Homo sapiens: one gene and its partner. The protein of the gene in region 2 purifies or fractionates together with the protein of the main gene of each other region. This does not show direct contact. Each region holds a gene or a part of one and is shown on either strand. Other genes may lie near its edges.

Evidence for each region.
Region 1: the proteins of FAM3A (region 2) and HS6ST2 purify together in Homo sapiens (affinity purification with mass spectrometry; one large-scale study listed by BioGRID and IntAct). This does not show direct contact.

What each region holds. Positions count from the first base shown.
Region 1 is NC_000023.11:132,671,949-132,675,763, forward strand, and holds part of HS6ST2 (heparan-sulfate 6-O-sulfotransferase 2), read right to left. Parts: intron 1-3,815. UniProt on the Homo sapiens protein: 6-O-sulfation enzyme which catalyzes the transfer of sulfate from 3'-phosphoadenosine 5'-phosphosulfate (PAPS) to position 6 of the N-sulfoglucosamine residue (GlcNS) of heparan sulfate.
Region 2 is NC_000023.11:154,513,863-154,517,777, forward strand, and holds the start of FAM3A (protein FAM3A isoform 1 precursor), read right to left. Parts: upstream 2,371-3,915; 5' UTR 1,911-2,370; coding exon 1,898-1,910; intron 1,854-1,897; exon of another isoform or gene 1,618-1,853; intron 1-1,617. UniProt on the Homo sapiens protein: May act as a defensin against invading fungal microorganisms.

The DNA of each region.
Region 1 (3,815 bases), about 22 Mb from region 2:
ATAGAAAAGTTTACCTAACATTGACAGAAAAAGTCTTCATTCCTCCACCAAAATCCAGGTCAGTTAGATAAGCCTGGGCAAGATGCCATAATTCTGAAACTTTGAGAGAGAAGGAGATCTAAAGCAGTGATATCAAGGACACTGCAGTTTCTAGAAGGGTCCCATGAAAAATAAAGAGAAAATACTGCAGCTGCAGACTGTCTGGGAACTTCAAAGATCTTTGGGGCAAAGACCTAAAGATTAAGATCCTGCCAAGAACTCTGGTCACTGAAACATCCCGCAATCCCAGGGATTTACAAGAATAAATCCAACCTGTTTCAAAGACACATAGATATAATTTTGGATATATGAGATTGGTGGGGGGGGGTGGGTGCTCCTTGATTTAGAGTTCCTAACTTACATAACCGAAACAGATCTACCCCAGTAGTTATTCTTTTGATTTGCCCATCTCTAGACTACTTGTCAGCCCTCATCACTTTCATCTTGTCTTTGAATTGTAATCTCAAACCTTATGTCCTACAATTTCCAAGGCTATGGATCCAGGCTTCCTCTACCTCACCTGAGTAGCTATCCTTTTCTATGGATAAGCTGCTTTCCTCTCTCTAGTGCCTCACAACCAAGCCTCATTAAAGGCCTGTGAAAACAATTACAGGTGAGTTTCTGTTGGGAAAAGTTAATGAGTGCTAGCTCTCCTTCTGTCTGGTTGGCTGTCCATCTCCATCTGTCAAGAAAACCCTTTCCCACAGGTTCCATAAATGTCTCCAGCACTACAAAAGTGAAAAAACAATTTGCAGTATTATGCACATTCTATTCAGGTGGGAAAATTGCAACTAACCCAACTCTTCAGCATTTTCAGTGTTTCTGATTGAATGATTTGATGCTGAAATGGTATCCAGTGTACTTAAACCAAAATGGCAATCAGACCCACTCCAATCTGAGTTTTGCTGTTTGGTCAAAGCTAATTGTGGGAGAAGAACCCTGTGGCTTAAAACACACCTGACTCACTTTTTTGATGGGTGGCATATAGAAACTTCTGCATCTCCTTTGTAAGCTCTTTTCGGAATTAATTCATCTCAGATCCCTGAAAAATAGTTGTGCTGATACAACTACAATAGTACTGAAATTTTAAGAATTAATTTTCAGGGTCCCAGGAAATTGAAATTGTATTTCAAGAGAACAGGTTTGGCTATGATATTTATTGTCTACATATCTTTTACTAGGCACTTAGCATGTGGTGCTCGTAGTGTTGCTTATATTTTATTATTTATCTGTCTCTCCAACTCACTTTTAAATGGGCAGTCAAGAGGTATTCATTGAACAAATAAATGAAAAAGCTGCATTTGGGCTCAATGGAAAGAAGTGTCATGATTGAGTATTAATGTCTTGCACCAGTTTGAGAGAAGGAAGTGGTGACACATGTCACATATCTTCCATCCCTGAAGAGGAATGGTCTGGGAGAATTGGACTCCAGTCACTGAAGGTTGGTCATCATGTGCATCACAAAAAACGTGAGCTTAGAAAGGATTCTCAAGCAAGCTTGCTTGGATGGTTGCAGAGTGCCTCTGAAATAACACATCTGTTGCATTTGTATAGTCCTTAATGTTTTCCAATGTGTGTTCTTGTAAGTGATAACTGAGATGAAACCCACTTTATTGTTGAGGGTTTGTTTCAAGTCTCTCTGAGGGAAATACTGGCTATTCTTTACTCCCTAGAGATGCCTCTAGGCTCCTGAACACTCCCTGACTGAAAAAATGCACTTAAAACAGACTCTCCCAGGGATAAAAGCTCATCTAGTCGGCCTCCCCAACAGGTGCTTCAGGCCCCTCTCCAACAGATACACCAAGTCGTCATCTTTTGAAAGGTTTTTCAATCGTGGTTGTTTCCCCATGAAAACTTGCTTTTCTCTTTTCTAAGAGACTCACATTTCTGAAGTATGTTTGCCCTTGTTCTATTGTTGAGCAAGACACCTCTTCAAATATTGATTTCCTTTAATTAAAGCTGATAATACTTTCGCATTTCATTTTTTTCTATCTTGTTAGGTTATGTCCTGAGTGGTTTTCTTTGTTCCAAACTTTTTCACTTCTTTTGCCCGAGGTGTCTAAATTAGAGTCCTTGCCCCTTTAAGTATCTTACGCTCATTATCTATATTTCTGATAATCACCTGGCAAAGATAGTTCAGTTCATTGAGATGTGCTTTTATTTAGCATCCTCTTCTAGTTTCCCTTTGCCTAACTATGGATAATAACAGGATTTCTGAGGGAAGGGAAAAGCTCATTTTTATTGCTATGAAGCCCAGTGTAACTATGATCTCTCAGAAGCAGCCTCATAAGTTCAAAGCATTTATTCAGGAATCCCAGGTTCTAATCCTGGCTGCCAGCAAGGCATTTAACTTCTTGCTGTCTTAGTCTTCTTATCTACAAAGGAGAGGGAATTATACTGATCAGGTAAACCATTCACAATGAAGCTCACAGTTACTCTGGAATTGAAAAGCTCTTGGAAAAGGCAACCAGGGCGCTCACATTATCTTGCCCTCTCCCATTCCATTAACTTTTCACTCTAGCAGCTCACCACAGGGCATCAGGGACTGCAGCAATGGGCTCATTTATTTTTGTTGCTATTTTGCTCTCTTCACCTCTTGGTACATGTTGTTTTTGCCCAGAGAGTGACAGTCACGTCCCTGAATGCCTCATTGGGATCAAGAAAGAACATGAGTCAGTTTCTAAATTATATTATTTTCTCATTTAAGCTGACTAATCCCATGTGTCTTTACCAACAGTATGGACCGTAGTTACAAACTATCAGAGGCCAATAGAACGGTATCTAACAATTGTAAGTGGTATTATAAAACTGTTGCGTTCGCATCTAACTCTGGGCTTCTCCATCACATCAGGGATTGAGGAGCAGAAACCATAGTTATGGAATTGGATGGTTTGGGGTAATTGAGATCTGAAATATAATGAGAGGCTGGGCTGGAATGGCAGTTATAGGGGTGGAAAATAACTATGCCTGGCATGGCAAAAGAAAATATGACAGAACTTGGGGATTGACTATGTTTGGGGAATGAGAATAAACCCTAAATGAAAGTCACTGAGAAGGTTTGCAAGTTGGATGACTGAGAACAAATTTACTCTGCCAGTGAAAGAGAGAGTAGTTGGGAGGGAGATCTGGACTAGAGGAGAAGATGACGGATTCAGTTTGGGGCCTATCGAGTTGGGGTATTGATGGACAGTGTCCCAGTAGGCAATTAGAGAAATGGAACTGGAGCTCAAGAAGAAAGACAAGGCAGATGTGCGGTCATTGCTCCAAAGTGGGACTCAAAGCCATGAGATAAACAGTGAGGCCTGATGAGACAGTGATCCACTATGATTAAGGAGTGTTTCAAGAAGCATCCTATGCCAGAATCTGTTTACTCCCACCCCACTCTATGAGGATTTACAACTGCGTTACAAAGACTTGTATGCCAGAGGTCCAAGTAAAAGCATCTAAATCAGGTAACTTAGTTATGTAGAGATTAATGCTAAGGTTAATGAGGGAAAGTGAAGGCCTCGTTCCTGGTGCAGGCCAGTGGCTTTCTTCATCCCATGCCCATAGTCTGCTTCTCCCCATTCTCCCAGCCCACCCAGATTGCTTACAGATGACAAGGCAAGCTGGGTACCAAGAGATTGGTGGCAATCATTGGCAGCCCATTCCTATAACAAATACCTCACAGAGTACATCCTATGCTGTTTTCACCTTGGTGTAAGAAGGACACTCTGGCAAATGAGCAAAATTGAGCTTTCTACCTTGGCTTCACTTGCAGTTCACATCTTTTCTCT
Region 2 (3,915 bases):
TCAACCCCCTCAAAAGTCATCTATACTCATTCCATCATCTCACCTCCTACTCCCTCCCACCCTACTCCAGTCTGGCCTGGCTTCCACCACCTCACCAAATCAGCTTGTTGCCAAGGCCACTGATGACCTTTGTGGTGTCACCACCCCTGGTGACCTGTCAGCCTTGATCTTCCTTGACCTCTCAGTGGGCTGCCCATGTCCACCTGACAGAAGCACTAACTTCTCTGCTGGCTTTCCGGACAGCACACTCTCCTGACCCAATCTCTCTGGACACTCCTCATTCTCCTTAGTTAGATCGTCTCCTCTACCCTCCCCTTAAAAGCTGGACTTTCCCAGGCTCCCATCTCAGGCTGCCTTCTGGTCCCTACCTGTAGTGTCTTTTTATTTTTTTTATTTTTGAGACGGAGTCTTGCTCTTGCCCCCCAGGCTGGAGTGCAATGGCGCGATGTCGGCTCACTGCAACCTCCGCCTCCTGGGTTCAAGCGATTCTCCTGCCTCAGCCTCCCAAGTAGCTGGGATTACAGGCGCGCACCACCGTGCCTGGCTAATTTTTTTTTTTGAGACAGAGTCTTGCTCTGTTGCCCAGACTGAAGTGCAGTGGCGTGATCTTGGCTCACTGCAAGCTCCGCCTCCCGGTTACACGCCATTCTCCTGCCTCAGCCTCCCTGGTAGCTGGGACTACAGGCGCCCGCCACCACGCCCGGCTAATTTTTTTGTATTTTTAGTAAAGACGGGGTTTCACCATGTTAGCCAGGATGGTCTTGATCTCCAGACCTCGTGATCCGCCCGCCTCGGCCTCCCAAAGTGCTGGGATTACAGGTGTGAGCCACCGCACCCGGCCATGCCTGGCTAATTTTTGTATTTTTAGTAGAGACGGGGTTTCACCATCTTGGCCAGACTGGTCTCGAACTCTTGACCTCAGGTGATCCACCCGCCTTGGCCTCCCAAAGTGTTGAGATTACAGGCGTGAGCCACTGCGCCCAGCTGTCTTTACTTTTTTGAGACGGAGTCTCGCTCTGTCGCCCAGGCTGGAGTTATGCGGTGGCGCAATCTCGGCTCACTGCAACCTCAGCCTCCCGGGTAGCTGGGATTACAGGCACCCGCCACCACGCCAGGCTCATTTTTTTGTATTTTTTTAGTAGAGATGAGGATTCACCATGTTGGCCAGGCTGGTCTCGAACTCCTGACTTCAAGTGATCCTCCCACCTCGGCCTCCCAAAGTGCTAGGATTACAGGCGTGAGCCACCGCGCCCGGCCTGTAGTGTGTTTTTAGATGATGTCATCTACTCCTAGCTCTTTAATTAAGCACCATGTGTCAATGACTTTCTATTTTCTAGTTCCAGCCGTGGCCTCTCTTGAAACCACTCCCTGCCAGCTGGTTCCTCAGTGGCCAGCTCCACCTGGATATGTCCACAAAGTTACCACCTTAGCAAGTCTGAAGTCCAATTCCCGAGTTGTTTCTACTCTCCACCCAGCCCCAACCTATCCCTCCCCAAGGATCTTCATCTTACTTGTCCAGGTGACAGTAGGGCTGTCATCGGGTTCATGTCGAAGCCCACAGCCACTTTTGTCACTTCCCCTCTAAGACCACGCCTCTCCACCTGGACTGCCCACCTCCTCTCTCTCACCACTCATTTTCCAAAAAGCAGCTGGTCTGCTACCTGCGTTGGGAGATACTGACTATACTAATCCTCATGTCATAGCTCGGGGAGCTGACGTCCTCAGAGGTGAAAGGATTTGGTTAAGGTCAAGGAACGAGTGTTTGTGCAGAGTCCTCCATTTCCAAAACCAAACCCAGTGGTTCACCCGGGCCTCTCCAGACACAGATGTCGCGACGCTGGGCCTCCAGCCAGGTGCCCTTTTCAACTCCCTCCCGTTCGCTGTGGAAGCCACCCACCTGCCAACCTCATGTCCACTTCTCCTGCTGGGTTGGGACCGCCGGCAAGTGCACTGTTTGGGGGCAAAGCGGAAGGACAGGTTTGGGTGGGGGTCAGGGGCAAGCCTGTGCGGGACCCCTGCTGGGGGCGGGCGCGATCGGTGCTACGACCTGTTTGTCCAGCCGCCCGGCCAGGCAGGGCTCCTCGGAAACGCGCGGGGAAACCCTGCCTGGCCAGGAGGGGCCTCAGGAACCCGTTGGCTCACGATCTTGCCCACAGGAGCCTCCGGGGCTGGGACGAAGATGTGGTTCTCCTGGGCTCGGGCCGTTCCTCCGGGCCTGGGGGCTGGCGATGCGGGCCGGGCCGGAGATTTCTCTGGCCGTGGGGAGACGTGGGCTCGGTCAGGGAGGTTCCCTGTCAGGCCCGCCGACCCGCTCCGCCCCGGGAGAGGACGCAAGGCCGCTGCGCAGGGTGGCCAGGCAGGCCCGGCAATGGCGGCTAAGGGCGGGGCCACAGCCCGCCGGCCCCGCCCCCGGCAGCAGCTGCGCCGTCTGGCTCCACGCAGGCCCCGCCTCCAGACCCGCCTCTACCGCTCGCGCTGGCCGCCGCATGGGAGGGGCCTGAACCTGTCCCGCCCCGAACCTGTCCCGCCCCTGGATCCCTCGTCGGCCCCACCTCCGCAGTGCGTTCAGGCTGAACCCACCGGCCGCCGAGTGGGAGGGGCCCACGTCGGTCCCGCCCCGGAAGTCTCCCCTCGGCCCTTTCTCGGGTGGGAGAGCCCTGCCTACCCAGGCTTAGAGGGCTGGGGCTGCGCTTGCACCCTGAGGTCAGATTTGTGAGTCGTGGGAAGACGCAGATGGATCTGGGGCAGAATTAGAACCTGTTCCAAAGTTGATCCATGCGCTTTGTAAAGGCAAGGGAGGTACAGAGGCGCAGATAGGGAAGACCGCAGGATCCAGCGTGAGCCTCTGGCTGCCTTTCCTTAGGGTCTGTTTTCTGTCCAGAAGCGCGTTCCTGCTGTCTCTCGTTATCACTTTTATAATGGGACGGGGCGTCTCAAACTATTTCGACATCCTTGAAAACTCTTGCCTGCTCCGCCTGCCTGGTCTCTAACACCCTCCTCCTCAGAGCTGCTCAAGCTGTGTTGTTTACGCCACACCCCACCCTAAAAGCAGAGGAGAATACAACTTTCGGGGGCAGTGGAGGGGGGAGTTTAGCGCTATAACCCGAGGCTTTCACAGCAAACCAGAATTTATTTTGAGGCCTCTCAGGTTCAGCTTTCAAGTCACGTGACTTTCGCGTCCTACACAACTCTTATTTTCACTTGAAAACAAGTGTGACGTCGTGAATTCCCTAACAATAGGAAAAAAGAAGGCTCCAGAAAGAGCGGTGCTTGGCTTTCCCAGCGGCTCCAAATGGTGCCCGGCACCCAGCTGGCTGTATGGACCTGGGGTGGTCTCCGGCCGCAGGCAGACGCGGCCCTTCGGCCTTTCTCCAGTCACCCCAATTCTCCCTGACTGCCTGGCTATCTCCCCTCCGCGCCTGCCCGCACGCTGCCCCCAACACTGCCCGGGCTCCCTCTGCCCATGAGAACACGGGTCAAGCTCCCGTCCCTTCTGCCCTGCCGGCTGCCCCAAGTGCGCCCTGACCACCTACTGCGCTGGCATGGCCGGGGCCACCCTGACAGCTGATCCATCATCTGTCTGGAGAGCAGCAGCAGGGCCCAATGAGAACCACGGAAACCTCCCTGCCCTTTGACCCAACTTACGGGAATCTCCTACCCTTAGGGAAACAATGCAAAATATAGAGAAAGTTTATAGAGCCGGGCATGGGAGAGCCCTGGTTAGAATCCAGCAGCTTCTATACTGGAGTACTCAACAGGGTCAAGGTCCCTTTCAGCTGCCTGCTGCTGGGGCCAGGGCTTTGCATTTGCGTTTTGTCATGGAATTTGACAGCCTCTCAAGTAATTATGGTAACGAATCTTGGGCTCCATGCCCTCCTCAGGGGGGCCCAGTCGAAGAAGCTCCAGGTTACTCAC